Linked DNA regions of Homo sapiens. The protein of the gene in region 1 interacts with the protein of each later gene in a biochemical or structural test. Each region holds a gene or a part of one and is shown in the gene's direction. Other genes may lie near its edges.

The links.
Region 2: the proteins of COP1 (region 1) and TRPV4 interact in a test that uses a peptide from one of them, tested with the Homo sapiens proteins (one large-scale study listed by BioGRID).
Region 3: the proteins of COP1 (region 1) and YWHAB form a complex in vitro, tested with the Homo sapiens proteins (one study listed by BioGRID).
Region 4: the proteins of COP1 (region 1) and MLF1 form a complex in vitro, tested with the Homo sapiens proteins (one study listed by BioGRID).
Region 5: the proteins of COP1 (region 1) and CUL4B form a complex in vitro, tested with the Homo sapiens proteins (one study listed by BioGRID).

Annotation. Positions count from the first base shown.
Region 1 is NC_000001.11:175,945,041-175,948,810, reverse strand, and holds part of COP1 (E3 ubiquitin-protein ligase COP1), read left to right. Parts: intron 1-1,571; coding exon 1,572-1,616; intron 1,617-3,640; coding exon 3,641-3,658; 3' UTR 3,659-3,770. UniProt on the Homo sapiens protein: E3 ubiquitin-protein ligase that mediates ubiquitination and subsequent proteasomal degradation of target proteins.
Region 2 is NC_000012.12:109,823,372-109,827,141, reverse strand, and holds part of TRPV4 (transient receptor potential cation channel subfamily V member 4), read left to right. Parts: exon of another isoform or gene 1-332; intron 333-3,770. UniProt on the Homo sapiens protein: Non-selective calcium permeant cation channel involved in osmotic sensitivity and mechanosensitivity. Activation by exposure to hypotonicity within the physiological range exhibits an outward rectification.
Region 3 is NC_000020.11:44,892,008-44,895,777, forward strand, and holds part of YWHAB (14-3-3 protein beta/alpha), read left to right. Parts: intron 1-3,770. UniProt on the Homo sapiens protein: Adapter protein implicated in the regulation of a large spectrum of both general and specialized signaling pathways. Binds to a large number of partners, usually by recognition of a phosphoserine or phosphothreonine motif.
Region 4 is NC_000003.12:158,577,635-158,581,404, forward strand, and holds part of MLF1 (myeloid leukemia factor 1), read left to right. Parts: intron 1-3,770. UniProt on the Homo sapiens protein: Involved in lineage commitment of primary hemopoietic progenitors by restricting erythroid formation and enhancing myeloid formation.
Region 5 is NC_000023.11:120,533,247-120,537,016, reverse strand, and holds part of CUL4B (cullin-4B), read left to right. Parts: coding exon 1-90; intron 91-1,073; coding exon 1,074-1,187; intron 1,188-2,430; coding exon 2,431-2,536; intron 2,537-3,770.

The DNA of each region.
Region 1 (3,770 bases):
CATGCCCACATGTCTTTATTTCTTCTTGATACACCTATAATCTTTGATGCTGCTGACTAATTCCAAAGAGTATTCTGATTCCATTAAAAATTCTGGAATAGTGGAAGACATTATTATTTTCTTGTATGCCATTAGTAACAAGATGCACATTTCTGAAGAGCAGCTTTATTAGAAATGAAAGGGAAAATTTAAAAATGGAAATGTATGAGTTTGTAAAGCGCAACTTGCATATGTCAAAGAAACTAAAGTTTAACTCAGCTTAGCTGAAGTAACTTTTCTAACATACAAGCCAAGAGTTTTCTTTGTTCTTATTATTGCTTTGTCATGAAGCCTGAAGGATATTTAGGTAGATCCTATCCTACATTCAAATTAGACCACTTTATCTGTTTCTCATAGCTGTTATTTGGACTTCGTTTTTCTCTCTGCCACCTGGCCTGACCTCTATGACATTTTAAGTCTGTTTACCACCTCTTAGCTGCCTACCATGGAAAGCAAAAGACTCCAACACATCCAAGTTCCAGAGCCCTTTAGATGCCCAGTTTCCTACAGGAGGCATGTCTCCATTCTTCCTACTTTCTGAGATTCTCTCTAGTAAACTCAGTCATGTCCATTTCTTTTCCCACTCTTCCTACTTTCCAGAGAAATGTTTTTTCCTTGGCTTAGAATAGAAAAATACTTCACCACATATATTCTCATCCAAGTAATTACCAAGGTTATTAAAAATGCATGTGCTGAATGATAGAATAATTAAAAAGAAAGATAGTCCTTTTTCCCAAATGAATATTCACATTTTCTTGTTTTCCTAATACCAAATGTCCATCCATAGAGATTTGTGCCAAGGATGTTGGCAGGTTTTACATCAATTACTGGTATTTTATGAGAGAAAATGAATGAAGAAGGAGTGTGCTGGGAAAGCAATTATTCACTTTGTTTTTCTCAACTTACTCTTTTTTTCATTTTATTTCAGTCTTTGTTTCTTTTGGCTTTTCTTCCATTGACAATCTTTTTCCCTTTTATTTTTGTTTACATTCAAAAGTGTCCTACTCTGCTTCTAACTTTATTCTTTTATTAAAACTTACACTTCAAAATATGGGATCTTAAGTTTAAAATACAGTTAAAAACATGTTAAAATTGTCTCTTCGACTGGGCACAGTGGCTCACGCCTGTAATCCCAGCACTTTGGGAGGCCGAGGTGGGCAGATCACCTGAGGTTGGGAGTTCGAGACCAGCCTGACCAACATGGAGAATCCCCGTCTCTACTAAAAATACAAAAATTACCTGGGCTGGTGGCGCATGCCTGTAATCCCAGCTACTCGGGAGGCTGAGGCAGGAGAATCGCTTGAACCCAGGAAGTGGAGGTTGTGGTGAGCCAAGATCGCGCCATTGCACTCCAGCCTGGGCAACAGAGCAAGACTCCGTCTCAAAAAAAAAAAAAAAAAATTGTATCTTCATATTAGATTCAATTGTCTTAGGAATTGAAGTGAAGAAAGAAGGATGAAGAGGAAATTATCTCTTGGATTGCTCTCCAGGAAATCCTTCTCTATACTTTAAAAGCTCTTGTTCTTTTCTAGGAGTCCAATGTGCTGATTGCTGCTAACAGTCAGGGTACAATTAAGGTAAGCTATTTACTATATCTCCATTTTAAACTCAGGCCCATTTTTAGACTGAAACAGGATTATAGAAATACACCATTGTACTGAGCCTTAGAGATCATCCCAAATCATGGGTCTGTGTCTCCTTACAAATGGCTTGATTTAAGGGAAAAGAATAGGTAGCTTGCATCTGTGGAGAAGATGATAGTGCTTATTGAGGTTGTATGGATGCTGGATGGATTAATAGATGGTCAGTTTGAAAAACAGATAAAGACTAGTGAACATTCACTGTGGGCTAAGCACAGTTTAGCTTCTGTTATGCCAGTACAACTCTCCCACAGGGCTTTCAGTAGATAGAGCCCAAAATATAGCAGGAGATGCAAGATATAGCAGAAGATGCTTAGACATCACCAGATTTAAACATATCTTGGTCATATTTTATTCTCTTCCTCATGGTTCTCTTTCTTCTGTCCCCTAAGAAGTAGGTTTTTCCTCAGTTGTCAAAGGGGAGAAAAAGTTATTTTAGTGTTCAGTTGAAAATTGATAGATGTGATTCAAGGAAGCCTAGCCATAAAAAAAGGAAAGAAAATTGATTGATGCATATATAGCACTTGTACATGATACATTGGATAAATAAATCCTGAGATAAGCAGTGAACTTTCTAAACAAAACACCCTTTTGGTGGAGTACGTGTTTCTGAGAGTACCTGTTTTTTCCACATATTCTCTGCTGATTTGGTAGAAATATTGAAAGTTTTTTAACATAACGTGTGTGTTTCTCCTGCCACTTAGCATTAATTTTGCCATAGCTTCCTTAGACTCATCATAAGTGGAGAATAATCCATCAGCCAAGGCAGCAAATCCTAGCCTAAACATTCTACAGAGGTGAAATGAGCAAACTTAACGCAGAAGAACTGCACTAATTTACATGGTAGTCTCCTTTTTTAGGCAGCCAGTTTCTCTGTTTGAAAAGCCTCTTTAGAGAACCACTGAGAGCTTAAATGAAAACGAGGTTTTTTAACTGATCAGTGTTTGTTATGTTCTGGAAGCCTCAAGCAAGATGGTAGAAGGTCTTGGAATATCTGATTTAAGTGGCTTTCTATACTCTCTCAGTCTCTCTCTTACTCTCATGTCAAGTCATGAATTGAAAAGCTACACCTTACTCTTCAAAAAGTTTATCCTTTACACCAATTGGGATTGCCAGCATACCTACAAGAGCTCAAAACTACATAGGTTCTCATAGGATCCCACTGACAAATCTAAGATTTTGTTCAGCATCATTGACTTCTTATGTTAAGTAGCCTAGTTACCTAATATAAAGACAAAAGCATTATGGAAGCACATATATTAGTCAAGCCTTAGCTGAGCAGCAGGGGAAAGGTTGCACGTTTAAATATTTGCTACTTAGTGAGTGTTGTAGTGTCCATCTAATGTAATTCTTTTTGACAGTGTCTCATAACTATCCTCCTGTTCCGTGATCTTTCTTAGCCATTTGCTTCCTCTTAGTTTTAGCAATATCACAACTTACTTTTTTATGACAGTATACTACTTTAATTCTAAAAATACAAAGTATCTGGACGCTAGATGATTGGCTAGAAATGGATGAAGCAGCAGGAAAGAGCAAGACTTTAGGTCCTGTAACCTTGATCATTATAAACAGTGTTTATTGATGAAAGAAGAAAACAGATTAAAATCCTAAACAAGGATACTTAAAACTTTCATAAGAATGTGGAAAGATTCCAACATATATTCCAAAAATGTATTTGTGCTATGCATTAGCCAATTTATTTTTCCATGTGTTTTATGTAGTTTACCTTGAAGGCTTCCAAGTTAACTGTGGAGATAGCTCATCTGAAAGAGTTCATGCAGCTGTTAAGCTGCAGGTCAAAAAGGATTAATGTCCAATCCATTCAAATTCTTTGGCATTTTCCCAGTTGGGAAACGTTTTTTAAATTTGCTTTTCTATTGGTAAATATAGTAAAGAGTCATTAAATTCCTTTTATATCTTAAATGATTTTATTAAATGGATCCTTTTTTCCCCCCAATTAGGTGCTAGAATTGGTATGAAGGGTTAACTCAAGTCAAATTGTACTTGATCCTGCTGAAATACATCTGCAGCTGACAATGAGAGAAGAAACAGAAAATGTCATGTGATGTCTCTCCCCAAAGTCATCATGGG
Region 2 (3,770 bases), on another chromosome or scaffold:
AGGAAGCTAATTAGTTAGCTGGGCAGAGGTTCGCTTTGGAGACCTGTCTGCCCTGGAGAGAATGACTAAGCCCGTCTTTCACTCCTTTCCTCTGTTCATTCATTCATTCATTCATTCATCCAGCAAATACATCTTGAGCAGCTGCTATGTGCCAGGACCTGTTCCAGGCATCTGGGCCTCAGCAGTTACCAGAAGGGAGTCCCTCCGCCCTAGAGCTTTTGTCCGAGTGACATCATTCCACACGCAGTGCTTTGAGGCCACTTTGTGAGACTCTGATACCCACAATGACAAGTAATCCAGCAGTGGGAACTGTGATGAGCTCCCTTTTACAGGTGAGGAAACTGAAGCTCGGAGAGGTCAAGTGATCCGTCTGGGGCCACGCAGTTACTAAATGGCAAAGTCAAGATTCAGACTCCAAGCCTGTCACCACTGTGCCATCTTGTCCTGCTGAGTTCCAAGGGATATGGCGTTGAGAAGGGGGGTCCTAGGGAGAGGGCATGGTAGCCCCCAAAGGGATGAATGAACTCAAATGGATTTAAAAGCAGATGGTTGGAAGTCTAGCCACATTCACTTCCTGTAGCGTTGTGGACTCAGTTAAATCTCATTCTTTCTGATCTTCAGTTTGTTCATCTGTGAAATGATAACAATAACACCGACCTCAAATGAGAGAGAAATGTGAAAGTGCTTAGCATATGATAGGTATTGGATAAATGTCAGCCCTTACCTCCTTTCCCCCGGGACTGACTTTATACATCTGGGAATGGAGACAATAATATTTAATGTCTATAGTTATTATTTGGATTAAAATAGATAGAAGGGGCCAGCCATGGTGGTTCACGCCTGTAATCACAACACTTTGGGAGGCCAAGGTGTGTGGATCACGTGAGCCCGGGCATTGGAGACTAACCTGGGCAGTAGAGTGAGACTCCATCTCTACAAAAAATAAATTTTAAAAGTAGGAATGGTGGTACATGCCTGTGGTCCCAGCTTCTGGGGAGGCTGAGGTGGGAGGATTGCTTGAGCCTGGGAGGTCGAGGCTGCAGTGAGCTATGATTGTGCCACTGCACTCCAGCCTGGGTGACAAAGCCATACCCTGTCTCAAAACAAAAAACAACCAAATGGGAGGTGCTGTGTGAAGTGTGCCATGGAGGGTAGGCATTACTGATGGTACATTGCAGGCATTAGCCTCAGTCATAATTCCAAGCAGTTAACCCCTGAGGCAGCAGCTTACTGTTGGCACAGACTGGTGTTGAGGTGGGCTGGGACAGAGGAAGGATCTCAAACTGGTTTTCTGCTGCCTTGGGCTCCCTTCCCCGACTCCTGCCCCATCCACTCATAACGGGCACCTGCCCTCTTCCCCCTCCTCTGATTTGGCAAACTCGGGACTTTTGCTCCTAGAAGTGGGGTAGAGGAACGTATGCATGGACGAGTGTCCTGTCCCTTCTGGTCCTTAGTCTCCCAGCTGGGAGGCAGCCCTTGTCCTGACAGCCTTCTAAAGGTGACAGAAGATGGAAATGAGGTGGCGAGGAAACCCTTTCCAAAGGTGAGGTCTCTGCAGTCACGAGCCCTGGTTTTGGAGCCGGGAAGTCTGGGTTCCAGTGCCTGCCCAGTTCTGACCTCCCTGGACCTCAATGTCATCATCCCCCACCTCCCACTGCAAACTGAGGGAATGTTAGCAAGAATGGCAAAGCAGCCATTGAACATCCTTATCTGTAAAATGGGGGTAATAATTGCTACGACCTGGGTGGGGTTAAGCTGTATTTGCTCCATAGTTATTTGGTATACAGTACATTCATGCTTTAAACTAAAAAATAAGTTCAAGTTCATTGAACACTTGGTGTTTGTTGGGCACTGCACTGAAGGCTTGAATTATCACATTTAATCCTCACAATAGCTCTTTGGGGTAGGAGCTGTTATTTTATTTTTTAATATTTTAAAAAATAAATAAATTTATTTATTTTTTGTAGAGATGGGATCTCACCATTTTGCCCAGGCTGGTCTCGAACTCCTGGGCTCAAGCGATCCTCCCACCTTGGCCTCCCAAAGTGTTGGGATTACAGGTGTGAGCCACTGCACCCAGCCTTATTTTTTAGTTTAAAGCATGAATGTGCTATACACCAAATAACTATGGAGCAAATACGGCTTAACCCCACCCAGGTCGTAGTAATTATTACTCCCATTTTACAGATAAGGAAACCAAGGCCCAGAGATGAGATGTGACTTGTGCAAGACCATACAGCCAGTGAGTGGCAGATGAGATGTAAAGCATTGATCAGGCAACGTTCTCAGACTATAGAATCCTCTCTGGAGTTCTCCGTGGCTGTGACCATCCTCTAGGAGAGGGGCTAGGCCAGAGAGAAGGCGGGCCTAAGGTTTTGTTTTGTTGAGATGGAGTCTCGCTCTTGTCGCCCCCGCTGGAGTGCAGTGGTGCTATCTCTGCTCACTGCAATCTCTGCCTCCTGGGTTCAAGAGATTCTCATGCCTCAGCCTCCCGAGTAGCTGGGATTACAGGTGCATGCTACCACACCCGGCTAATTTTTGTATTTTTGGTAGAGATGGGGTTTCACCATGTTGGCCAGTCTGGTCTTGAACTTCTGACCTCAAGTGATCCGCCCACCTCGGTCTCCCAAAGTGCTGGGATTACAGGCGTGAGCCACTGCGCCCGGCCGGACTAAGAATTTGATGCCTCCCTCCTCCTGGGCTGGAGCTGAGTAGCATGTTCTCAAGCAGGGCTGGCTGAGAGGGTGGAATCCTGGGGCTATGCTCTGATGGGAAGGAAGCGAGATAAGGGAAGAAGGACCTGGAGCCTCCTGGGGTAGTGACTTTGTATCCTTGAGCTCCTACTACGTGCCAGACCTTGTTTGAAACCCTTTATGTGGCTGGGCACGGTGGCCGACGCCTGTAATCCCAGCATTTTGAGAGGCCGAGGCGGTCGGATCACCTGAGGTCAGGAGTTCGAGACCAGCCTGGCCAACATGGTGAAACCCCGTCTCTACTAAAAATACAAAAATTAGCTGGCGCAGCGGTGGGCACCTGTAATCCCAGCTACTTGGGAGGCTGAGGCAGGAGGATTGCTTGAACCTGGGAGACGGAGGTTGCAGTGAGCCAAGATTGTGCCACTTATACTCTAGCCTGGGTGACAGAGCAAGATCCTGTCTCTCTCTGTCACACACACATGCGCACACACACACACACACACAAGAAAGAAAAAAAAGAAACCCTTTATGTGTGCTTAATCTCCATGACATTCCCATGTTGCAACAAGGAAACTGAGGTTCTGGGAGGGAAGTGACCTGCCTGAGGTCACTAAGCCTGGAAGGGTCATTTAGATGTAATTCACATACTCATAACTCAGTCTTTTAAAACGTACAATTCAGTTGGTTTCTTAGTGTATTCAGAGTTGTACAGACATCAGCACTATCTCATTCCAGAACATTTTCATCACCCCAAAAAAGGACTCTGTACCCATTAGCAGTCACCACTCCCCACTCCCAGCCCCTGGCAACAACTAATCTGCTTTCTGTCTCTGTGGATTTGCCTGTTCTGGGCATTTCATATAAATGGAATCCTGCAATATGTGGCCTTTTGTGTCTACAAGGTGCATGCTCTTAACCATTAAGCCACACCGCTTCTTGGTGGCTCCTACCCAGGGGCCGGGACCCTTGGAAATGACTTGGTCCCTGTGAAAGCTCAGAGGGGCATCTGTGTGTGCTGTCAGCCGGCCTCCCTCCAGCCAAGGGCTTGCAGAATGACCAAATGACTGCCGTGGC
Region 3 (3,770 bases), on another chromosome or scaffold:
ACCCACTAACCACCTGGTCCCACTGACTTTCTCAGTCCCTTCTGCAGTAGCTTGGCATCTGATTTTTCTTCAGCAGAGAGACTCCAGAACTAAAACTTCTGCTGTACAGTGCTGTGGATGCTCTATCTGGAATGGTACATCTGTGAATGCTGTTCAGAATATGTGATCAGTTCCTTACCCCATTGAAACATTCGAGCCTAGATTTTTCAGATTTTCTTGTCAGTTTTCTTCCTTATTCTCATTTCTTTATCTGCTTTGGCCTTTGATTTTTATCTCATCTAGAAAAACATACATGCACTTTATTAATAACATCTCTTTTTAAGTCACGACCTAGCTACCTTTAAACCTATTTCCTCTAGTTCTGTCTGGTTGGCTTTCTAAGGAGAGGCATTGTAACCCTTAAACGTGTGCTGTTTTTTTTTTTAATTGATGTGTAATAGATATACATGTGCTCTTTTCTTGTGTTTCTACCACTAGAGTTTAAGCTCTCTGAGGGGAGGACTACACTGCTTTCTTTTAAATTCCTCTCAATGAATAATCCAAAGAGTTCTTAGAAATTTGGTAGTTTTTCATTTTGTTAGTTATTTCAACACACATTGGATTATATGTGTTACATTTTTGTGAGGTAGCTTAAGAATAAAAAATAAGAATGGCTTATGAGCCTTTACTCTAACCAGCACTATATGGGCATTTTATGTTCATTATCTTATTTGATAGCTATTAATGTCTCTTTTTAACACTGAGAAAACAGATTCAGGTAAGTTATAATGTGGAAATGTAGAAAAATCACCTACTTTCTCTTTAGAAGCTCAGATGTGTATGTAAGGCTTGCTAAAAGCAGACCCCACCGTATATTTTATATGTATAGAGCTTGGGTAATTCCTGACATATAATAATGGAGTCTTCATCTGAAATTTCTAACAAATTATTAAATTCAAAGCTTATTATTTTCGAATCGAGCATGTTCTTTGCCTTGAAAACAAAACATAGCTGAAAGCCAGTGCTTCTAAAGGCCACAGCTGTCATTTTCAACCCTTTCTGTCTTTGCACTGCCTTTATTTAAAAAAAAATGGATTAGCAGTAGGTAGTCTTCTTTTTCTTTTCTTTCTTTCTTTTTTGATTCTTCTCCTAGGATATCTGCTCTAGCCACTGGGAAATAACTTCTCAGTATTTTGACCCTGACTAGAAAGATGTCCCTTGGGGAAGGAATTGGGATAGAGGGGCTAGGCTGTTTCCTAGATCCTCTATTTTCAGCATTTATTATCTGATTTAGGATTTTGTTTCTTTGAAGAAAATCCTATTTTGTGAGTACCTTTAGAATTATTTTTCATAGCTGTTTATCTGCACTAGTGGTTTCTCTTTAAACAGAAAAACACTTTTTTTCTTAAAAAAAGAAATAGTACCCAATTTTTAAAAAAGTAATACATACTTGAAGAAAATTTAAAAAGATAGGAAAATGAGGATATAATAATGTTATTACCCAGAGACAGAACCAGTGTTAACCATTTGGTGTAACCTTTCTGTTCGGGTTTGTTTGTTCTTTAGGGGATATTTTACAGAAATAAAATATTGTGCAGCCTCGTCCCTCCAGCCCCCATTGCTCTTAAATAAATCTTTTCATGACATTAAATCTCTTCTTTTGATGGCCACGTAATCTTGTACCATCTATCTCCTTCCCTCCCCTGCCTTTTTTTTTTTTTTTTTTTTTGAGACGGAGTTTCGCTCTTGTCGCCCAGGCTGGAGTGTAGTGGCGCAGTTTCGGCTCACTGCAACCTCCACCTCCTGGGTTCAAGTGATTATCCTGCCTCAGCCTCCCGAGTAGCTGGGATTACAGTCATACACCACCCCGGCTAATTTTTTTGTATTTTTAGTAGAAACGGGGTTTCACCACATTGGCCACGCTGGTCTCGAACTCCTGACTTCAGGTGATCTGCCTGCCTTGGCCTCCCAAAGTGCTGGGATTACACACGTAAGCCAGTGCACCTGGCCAGTCTCCTTATTTTTTAAACCATTCCCATATTGTTGGATATTTAGATTTGCTTCCATTTTTTCACTAAGCAATCTCTGCGTTTATCAACAAATGCTTCCCAGTCCTGACTTGCTGCATCCAGTGGCTTAGAACAGATTGACAGCCATCATCATCATATAGGTGTGCTGGAGAGCTCCTGTTCTCAAGCACGTCAGTCTCTTCCTGAAATATGCCCAGCACAAGGAAAATCTCTTGGCTTACTGCAGGGTTGGGCCTTTTGTGGCCTCTAATGAGTTTGCCTGCGCCAGTATCTTGATGCTTCTGCAGTGGTGCCAGGCCTGACGATGAGACTATAGTCTTTCAAAAACTTTTTAGGAGACAAATAAAGAGTATCTTGCTGACTTTTTTTTTAGTGGGAACCTCATTCAAAGTCTTGGAACAACAGTAGGTCTTGATTAAAAACCATCATGGCATATCACTAGAAAATTCAATTAGAAACTAATGGATAAACTTCAGTTACATTTAACATATATGTCCATTTTAACATAACATACTAACTATCTGTACAAGATTAATCTAGACTTTTGCTTTTCCTTCTCACAAAATTGTATATTTAAAAAGAAAATTCAAGCTTATGGTTTTATGGGCTGCTACAGTGTAATAGTCGTGGAGAAGAATAATAGTACTTCAGTTTGATTTTGCACTATGCATTTTTCAAGGAAGATTTCCACATTTAGTATTCTTTAATTCCCTGCGCCTCATCTTCACAGCAACTCTACTGAGGTAGATGCCATCTTCATTTTATGGATTGGAAGGCTGAGATTTAACATGCTCACATGGCTGTATAGTGGCACATTGCGCTGTGACACACAGTCCTGCTGCCTTCCGACTATACTACATATAGGTACTCTGTGTTCCTTGTGCTCTCCCAATAATGATTTGTAGAAAAACTTGATATTCATTTGCATATGAGTTTTGTGCTTAGCACAGTTATAAGCATTAAATGTGAAACAAACATGAAGCTTTCCTTTGAGGGCACACACGTGAAGCTGTAAGTGGTACAGTACTCATCTGTATCACAGAATGGCATAAAGAAGTCCTAGACCATGTAATAGGCTATAAGTATATTCAGAGTCATAGGCAAGGTAAATCAGTGAGGGCTAGGGCAGTCAGGGAAGGGTTTGTAGCCCTAGAAGAATGGGTGGAGTTCAGATAGGCAGGCAGTAAATAGGAGAGCACTCTAGATGAAGGGAACTACAAAAGCAGTTTCAGACACGTTTGAGCATTGTGTTTATAGGGCATGTGGTGCTGGCCAGCCTGAGAGAAAGGTACATGTTGGAGAACAGTGGATGAGAAAGCCAAACAAGTAAAGAGGAGACAATTTATCAGGAATTTGAAAGCCAGGTAGAGCTTAAATTTGATGGAGTAGCCAAAAGGGAGTCATTGGAAGTTACTGAGTAAGGACAAAGGCAAGACTAGAGGTAATTTAGGAAGAGTAATTTTTTGTTTGTTTTGAGACAGGGTGTCTGTCACCCAGGCTGGAGTGCAGTGATGCAGTCATGGCTCAGTGCATCCCTGGCCTCCTAGCCTCAAGCGATTCTCCCATCTCAGCCTCCCAAGTAGCTGGGACCACAGGCATGAGCCACCACACCTGGCTAATATTTTATTTTTTGTAGAGACAAGGTCTTACTATGTTGCCCAGGCTGGTCTTGAACTCCTGGTCTCAAGCGATGCTCCAGCTTTGGCCTCCAAAAGCACTGGGATTATAGATTGATCTGCCATGCCTGACTGGAAGAGTGAA
Region 4 (3,770 bases), on another chromosome or scaffold:
CACTGTAAGCCTTGTGCTGAAAGGATTTCTAAGGTATACTATTCATTTGGGGCATTCTTTGGTTCATGAGGTAAACACCACTGAATTAGGAGCCCAGGAACACAGCATGACTAGGACATGGTTGCTGGGTCAAAAATGCCATACAGTAGCATGTACCCACAAGATAATTCCTACTTCTGCCAATTAATATTGTAAATATCCATGAAAAAGGAGTGAACTATTTATAGAATATCAGGGGAGCATAATCATTTCCACAATTTTTTTGATATCAAAGGCTTTTGCCACACCAACACTTTGTACTTCAAGACAATGGAAAAATAGAATTGCTTAATAAAAATGTAATTCATTCTTTAAATATTTCTTCAGTTTCTACTATAGGCCGAACCCTGTGGGTTCTCTTTTAAATTTTTAGATGTCTTGGTTCCTGCCCTCAAGATCCTTCTTTGAATGTTACATGCATTATTTCTAGTATCAAAACATGGATCTTCTGGTCTATTTTCCTTATAGACCAGTCTACCTCATTGAAACTAGGGAACATTTCTTTATGATCAAGAGAACCATAACCATCTGCTGGCTAAGCTTTTGCCACTACCATGTATAATGGAAGGGAGGAATTTCCCTTAATGAGTGAGCCTGCCATGTCAGTTATCTGAGAACCTTATGTAATAGGTAATGCTCTTTGCTTAGAAGCACAAGTATCTATATTCTTATATAGATGAAAAAGAAGTGTAACTTAGGCAAAATAAGTGTGTGTGTGTGTGTGTGTGTACATATGTATTTGAGAGAGTTTTAAAAACAATAAATTATTCTAAAGGGAGACATTACCAGCCCTTAAACACATGTATGTACGTATGTACATACATACATACAAACACACACACACACACACACACACGTACACACTATGTTGAAATCATTCCCAAGTGACCTGGAATCAATCTAAGAGTTAAGACATAAACACTTTTGAAGGGGAAGTAGGCAACAATTTATTTTTCCTGCCTTGTGATATATGCTGAAGGTAAATAATATAGAATAGAAAAAGTACGTTTGAGACCAAAGTTTATTCAGTTTGGTTGTGGTTTGTGTGAGCAATTCTAAGAGAGGAGGTATATAGTCATCAGTGAGTAAAAGTACATTTTTCTTGACCTAAATGAAAATACATCCTCATGGAAAATCTGAAAAGTATAGAAAGTTTGGTAGCAGAAATAATACAACCCATTATTTTGATGTATTTTGTTTCAGATGTCCACATGTGGATTTTTATTTTCCAAAATTCGGACCACACTTTATGGTTAATTATTCAATGCTTTTCTGCAACATATACCATGAACGTTTTCCTGGTCTTTAGATATTCACTAAAGCATGACTTTAGAGTCTGCAAAATATTGCACCCTATGAACATACAAAGCATATTTCTCACATAAATCTTTAACAACATTTTCAAATTATTACCTTAGACTCTTTGTGTACATGAAATGACTAGTTTGTATAGCATGACCTTTTTAAAACCTCCTATTTCCAATTTGTTTTCCTAGAAGAATGAAATTTTATTTTCAAAAGAGAACATTATGAATGGGCTAAAATTTTTCATTTGAGAAAAAAAGCCTAGGTTAATTTTAAAAATATTAAAACAACTGTGTGCTACCATAGAATTTTTTTAGTTTTGATAAAAGTGAATTCAAACTTGGACAAGAGAAACATTAAAGCCTTATCTCCAAGCAGCTGCCTTTCTGGGTAGACATGAATTAAACTCACTAGAAGTTTCAGCCAGATTTCTTCCTGAATGGTTCAGACAGTTGCAAACACCAGACTATAGGCTCGCTTTTGTTTAGTGCATCTTCCAACAGGCAGTCATTTGTTCATGTCACTCAGAAAGATAAAATTTTTAGCATTTGCTGAACATACACATATTCAAATAAACATTTAAATATTCCCCTACTTCTATATAAAGAAAGAAAAACCCAGGCAAATTTTAAATGAGCCATATTTTGTTGATTAATTTTTAGCCCAATTATAATGCAATGAGAAAAATTAATTTTACTAAATTTTGATTCTGTAGAAAAGTAATAGCTGTTTAGCACTCCCTTATTCAAAGAACAAATTTAGTATTTCTTGAAATACTTTTCTTCATTGTAGTCAAATCACATCTACATATCTAAAGGAAAAGTTGACTGGTTTTCCTAAGTAAGTATATATTAATAGGAACAAGCATTTTAGTCTCCATACTTTAACCATACTCTAAGCTGTAAATGTCCAGTGAGTTTGGAGCTGTAAGCAAAAGGACCTCCTTTTGAAATGCCTGTTTTAAAACATCAAATGGTATGAAATCCTTTAACCTCATGCAGTTACATTTATTATGAAATATTTCAAACATACTGCAAAGGTATAACGAATACTTTGGAATAATCTGGTTTTTGAGGTAGGAGTTAGAAAATGTTCCATGGGTAACTCATTTGTGCATTTTAGAACTACTTGAAACTCTGTACCTTCAAATAAAAAGTAGAGTGGGGTGGAAGTAGGGAGAGCATTAGGAAAAATGGCTAATGCATACTGGACTTAATACCTAGGTGATGGGTTGATACGTGTAGCAAACCACCATGGCACATGTTCACCTATGTAACAAACCTGCACATCCTGCACATGTACCCCGGAACTTAAAAAAAAAAAAGAAAGATTTTGTGAGGTGGAAAAAAAAAGTAGAGTGATACGTATGCCAAATTTTGAATTACTAATTTTAAAGTAATTTTGTTCTTCATAATCTGATTTTGGAAAACAAAAAACGACTCCCTTTCTGCCTTCTAGTGTGCTAAAACATGAGCTGCTCCGTGTGTACTATTGATCTGTACACACTGAGATTTTAAATTAAAATTAATTTATAAATTGTCACAACTTCTTTATAGTGCTTGTTGCATATAATTTTGCTAGAATAGTGATTCTCAAACTTTTAACAGGTAGGAAATCTAGGAATGGTAGTCTTAAATTTCCTTTGCCCCTCAAGACAAAAACTCATACTAAAAATCCTACAAGAATCTGGTATGTGGCTGGGCATGGTTGCTCACACCTGTAATCCCAGCACTTTGGGATGCTGAAACGGGCAGAGCCCAGGAGCTCGAGACCAGCCTGAGCAACATGGCAAAATCCTGTCTCTACCAGAAAAAAAAAAAAAAAAATTATCCAGGCATGGTAGTGCACGCCTATAGTCCCAGCTAAGGAGGCTGAGGTGGGAGGATCAATTGAGCTTAGGAGGTCAAAGCTGCAGTGAGCCATGAACATGCCACATTGCACTCCAGCTGACAGAATGAAACTCTGTCTCAAAATAATAATATGCCATGTAAGAAGCTTAAGGTTACCACTTCACGCTAATAACAAATTAAAAACTGAACAACCTGAGAAAACAACTTTTCTTGTATATAGCAGAGAATCGAGGTCACAGGGCAAATCTCTGCCCCCATAATTGGAGATAGGCAGATAGAGAGAATCACAACTTAACTGGTGCAGAAACCTCTTCAGGAACCAGTGCGAGGGTAGTAGGAAAACCTGACCTGTAGTTGACAAATTACTGGAGACTCAGAGTGGACAAGTGTCAGAGTTAAGAACTCCATGGTCCCCCATAATTTTGTGAGTTTTACCTCCAGGAGCTCTACCAGGTTCTCCCAGTGAATATTGGAAAAAATCTTCTCATGCTTCCAGCAGAAGAGAGGGGTGGAAAGTAACCATTAAATATGCCAGAGCATTCTGTTTTTCTTAGCAAGGCCTGCAGTCAAGAGAAA
Region 5 (3,770 bases), on another chromosome or scaffold:
GTTCCGGGAAATATTGAGTTAACTGTGAATATCCTGACAATGGGCTATTGGCCGACATATGTGCCTATGGAAGTTCATTTACCACCAGAGGTAAGAGTTACTGTTTAGAACTGAGTTATAGGCATAGAAATCATAGCATTTCCATTTTGCTTGTCATTTAAAAATAGATACTTAGAAAAAAATAGAGACCCAGGGTCTCGCTGTATTGCTCAGGCTGGTCTTGAACTCTTGGGCTCAAGTGATCCCCCCCGCCTCAGCCTTCCGAAGTGCTGGGATTACAGGTGTAAGTCACCAGGCTTGGCATGGATACTTTTAAAAGTGTATGTCAGTAAGCGCACCAACACCAAATACCAACTGCTTTAATGTTTTACTTTTGTACTTAGAAGTCCAGTTAAGCACATAGCTAATAATGCCAAATTTCTGGGTTCAGGGTCAATTTCCCTGGCTCTTCTTCCATCTTCCCAGGTTATACCCCTCACTCTACCTAGCTATTAAGAATTCTTGCACATATTTCACCCATAGGTGGGATTGCTAAATGATGGGTCCTTGATTAAATCTATCCTGACTCCTGGTAAACTGTCTAGTCCAGGACTGAAGCCCATAAAAGGGATTAAGGCTAGACAGATAGATATTGAGAATCCTCCATGGAGATGATTATGAAGGCCCAGGGAGTAGATTTCTCTCAAAGAGGAAGAAAAAACAGCAGAGGCAGAACTTTAGAAAAGGCTCACATTTGGCAGATGGTAGAAAGAGGAACCTGTGAAGGAAACCAATGCAGAAGCAACAGTGAAATAAAGGAAGCAGCATAGTGCAGAGGCACAAAAGCTGCTGCAGGTGAATGTTTCAAAAGAGGGGATGATTAAATGTTCAGAGAGAGCAAAAGGTATAAATCCTAATAAATCCCATTTGATTTGGTGGTTGGGAGATCATTGTTTTTCATCAAAGTGATTGGTGGACCTACTGGATATAGTCTTAAAATTTTCCAGAAACTATATCACATGAGGTAAGTATAAAAATGGTAAATGTGGTATTGGATACAGAGCTTAAATAAAGCCTTATTTTATTTACTTTAGATGGTAAAACTTCAGGAGATTTTCAAGACATTTTACCTAGGCAAACATAGTGGCAGGAAACTTCAGTGGCAGTCAACCCTAGGACACTGTGTGTTAAAAGCAGAATTTAAAGAGGTAAGTGGATGTTCCCAAAACTTTTAGTTTTCATCTTTATCTTTAATGTTTAGGTCATCCTTCTTAACTGAAAGTTTAGGCTATTGTTTTTTGTTTTCTTCTTTTTTTTTTTTTTTTTTTTTTTTGAGACAGAGTCTCACTCTGTCACCAGAGTGGAGTGCAGTGGCGCTATCTTGGCTCACCGCAACCTCTGCCTCCTGGGTTCAGGTGATTCTCCTGCCTCAGCCTCCCGAGTGGCTGGGACTACAGGCGTGCGCCACCATACCCAGCTAATTTTTTTTGTATTTTTAGTGGAGACGGGGTTTCACCATGTTGGCCAGGATGGTCTCTGTCTCTTGACCTTGTGATCCACGCGCCTCGGCCTCCTAAAGTGCTGGGATTACAGGTGTGAACCACCGCATCTGGCCAGTTTAAGCTGTTGTTTTATAATTGTATCCTAGATATCCGCATGATGACAGTGATAGTTTGTCATAGCTTTATGTATTTTTAAGTAATTTTAGGTGTGTGGTCTTTCCACGATTGATTTGGCCCTTCTGCAAAATGAAAAGCAGTGAACTTTCCCCCTACCCTTTCCTCACCTGTGGATGAAAACTGTACACTGCCACTTCCTATTTTTATTTATTTGTTTATTTTTAGAGATAGGGTCCCACTCTGTCACCCAGGCAGGAGTACAGTGGCACAATCATAGTTCACTGTAACCTCAAACTCATGGGCTCAAGCTATCCCCCTGCCTCCGCTTCCTAAAGTGCTGGGATTACAGGCATGAGCAACTACACTTAGTCTAACACTGCCACTTCTTGACAGAAATCTTGTTGCTGGGAGCTACGAATAGAGTGGGAGTTAAGGGAAACAGTGTGCAATATCTAATCTCAAAAAACTTTAGCTTTTCATGACTAATCTGAGCCAAACAAATCAAAAATACATTTGAAATAGTGATTTCTTGCTGCTTGTGATGAATATCTAGAATGACACATAAGGCTGATTAATTTTCATTACTGTATTCTATTTATAAGGCTTAAAAAAAAACTGTTAAAAGGTCAGCTAATCCTTCCCCCTATTTTAGGTAGGGTCACACCTAAACCTCACACTGAAATACTGTATTACCACGTCAAGTGGCTTTGCTGGATAATGCTAATCATGTTTCTAAATCCACTAATTGAAAAATGCTTTTCCTATAAGAGATGATTAATTTTTCATGTGTTTTTAAAAAAGTGATGACTAAACACTTTTATTTCTTCAACAGGGTAAAAAGGAACTCCAGGTCTCTCTTTTTCAAACACTGGTGCTGCTAATGTTTAATGAGGGAGAGGAGTTCAGTTTAGAAGAGATCAAGCAGGCAACTGGAATAGGTTTGTAGCAAACATTAATTGTTCACTATGTGCACACCACTATGTTAAGAGGTCTGGGGGACATATTTATAGGAATAATTCCTTGCCTCAGAACTGTTTTGAGTTTTTTTTTTCTTTTTTTTTAATGAGACAGGGTCTCACTCTGTCACCCAGGCTGGGGTCCAGTGGTACAATCATGGCTCAGGCTCAAGTGATTCTCCTGCCTCAGCCTGCCAAGCAGATGGGACTACAAGTGCATGCCACCGTGCCTGGCTAATTTTTAAAATTTTTTTTTGTAGAGACAGGGTCTCACTATGTTGCTTAGCCTGGTCTCAAACTCCTGGGCTCAAGGGGTCTTCCTGCCTCAGCCTCCCTAAGTACTGCAATTACAGGCATGAGCCCCTGCAGCCAGCCAGAACTCTTTTTTTTTCCCCTCAAGACGGAATCTTGCTCTGTCACCCAGGCTGGAGTGCAGTGGCGCGATCTCGGCTCACTGCAACCTCTGCCTCCTGTGTTCAAGCAATTCTCCTGCCTCTGCCTCCCGAGTAGCTGGGATTACAGGCGCCTGCCACCACACCTGGCTAATGTTTGTATTTTTAGTAGAGACGGGGTTTCACCATGTTGGCCAGGCTGGTCTCGAACTCCTGACCTCGTGATCCGCCTGCCTCGGCCTACCAAAGTGCTGGGATTACAGGTGTGAGCCACCGCGCCTGGCCAGAACTCTTTATATAACCATAGGGAAAGGGGGAAATGACACTTGAAATAATGTCAAAACCCATAAGTACTGGCTTGTGGTACTGACTATAAGTGTGGTAAGAGTGCAACAAAGCAAGAGATCACCGTGGACTGGCACAATTGGGAAAGCTGTCATGAAGCAAGTGGCATTTGAGCTGGGCCTTCAAGTTTTGGTCAGGGAGAAGGCATATACAGCAAGGGGAAATATTTTGAGATGAGGTTGGGAGGTAGGAATGGGCACAGTATAGGCCCATGAAGAGCTTAATTGTAGCATAGAATCATGAAGAATCATGAAGAGCTTAATTGTAACATAGAATAGTGAGTTAAAAAATTAGGTAAGATGAGTAGGGCCTGATTGTGGAGAACCTGATAAGTCTAGCAAATGAAACCTACACTGTAGTGTCTCAACTATGTGGCATGGTGGAAGTAATTATTTGGACCACTTACTGAAATCAATCTACAGGGCAACTGGAAGGATCAAGGGATTCCAGTTTAGATGCTATTGGGATGATTCAGGCAT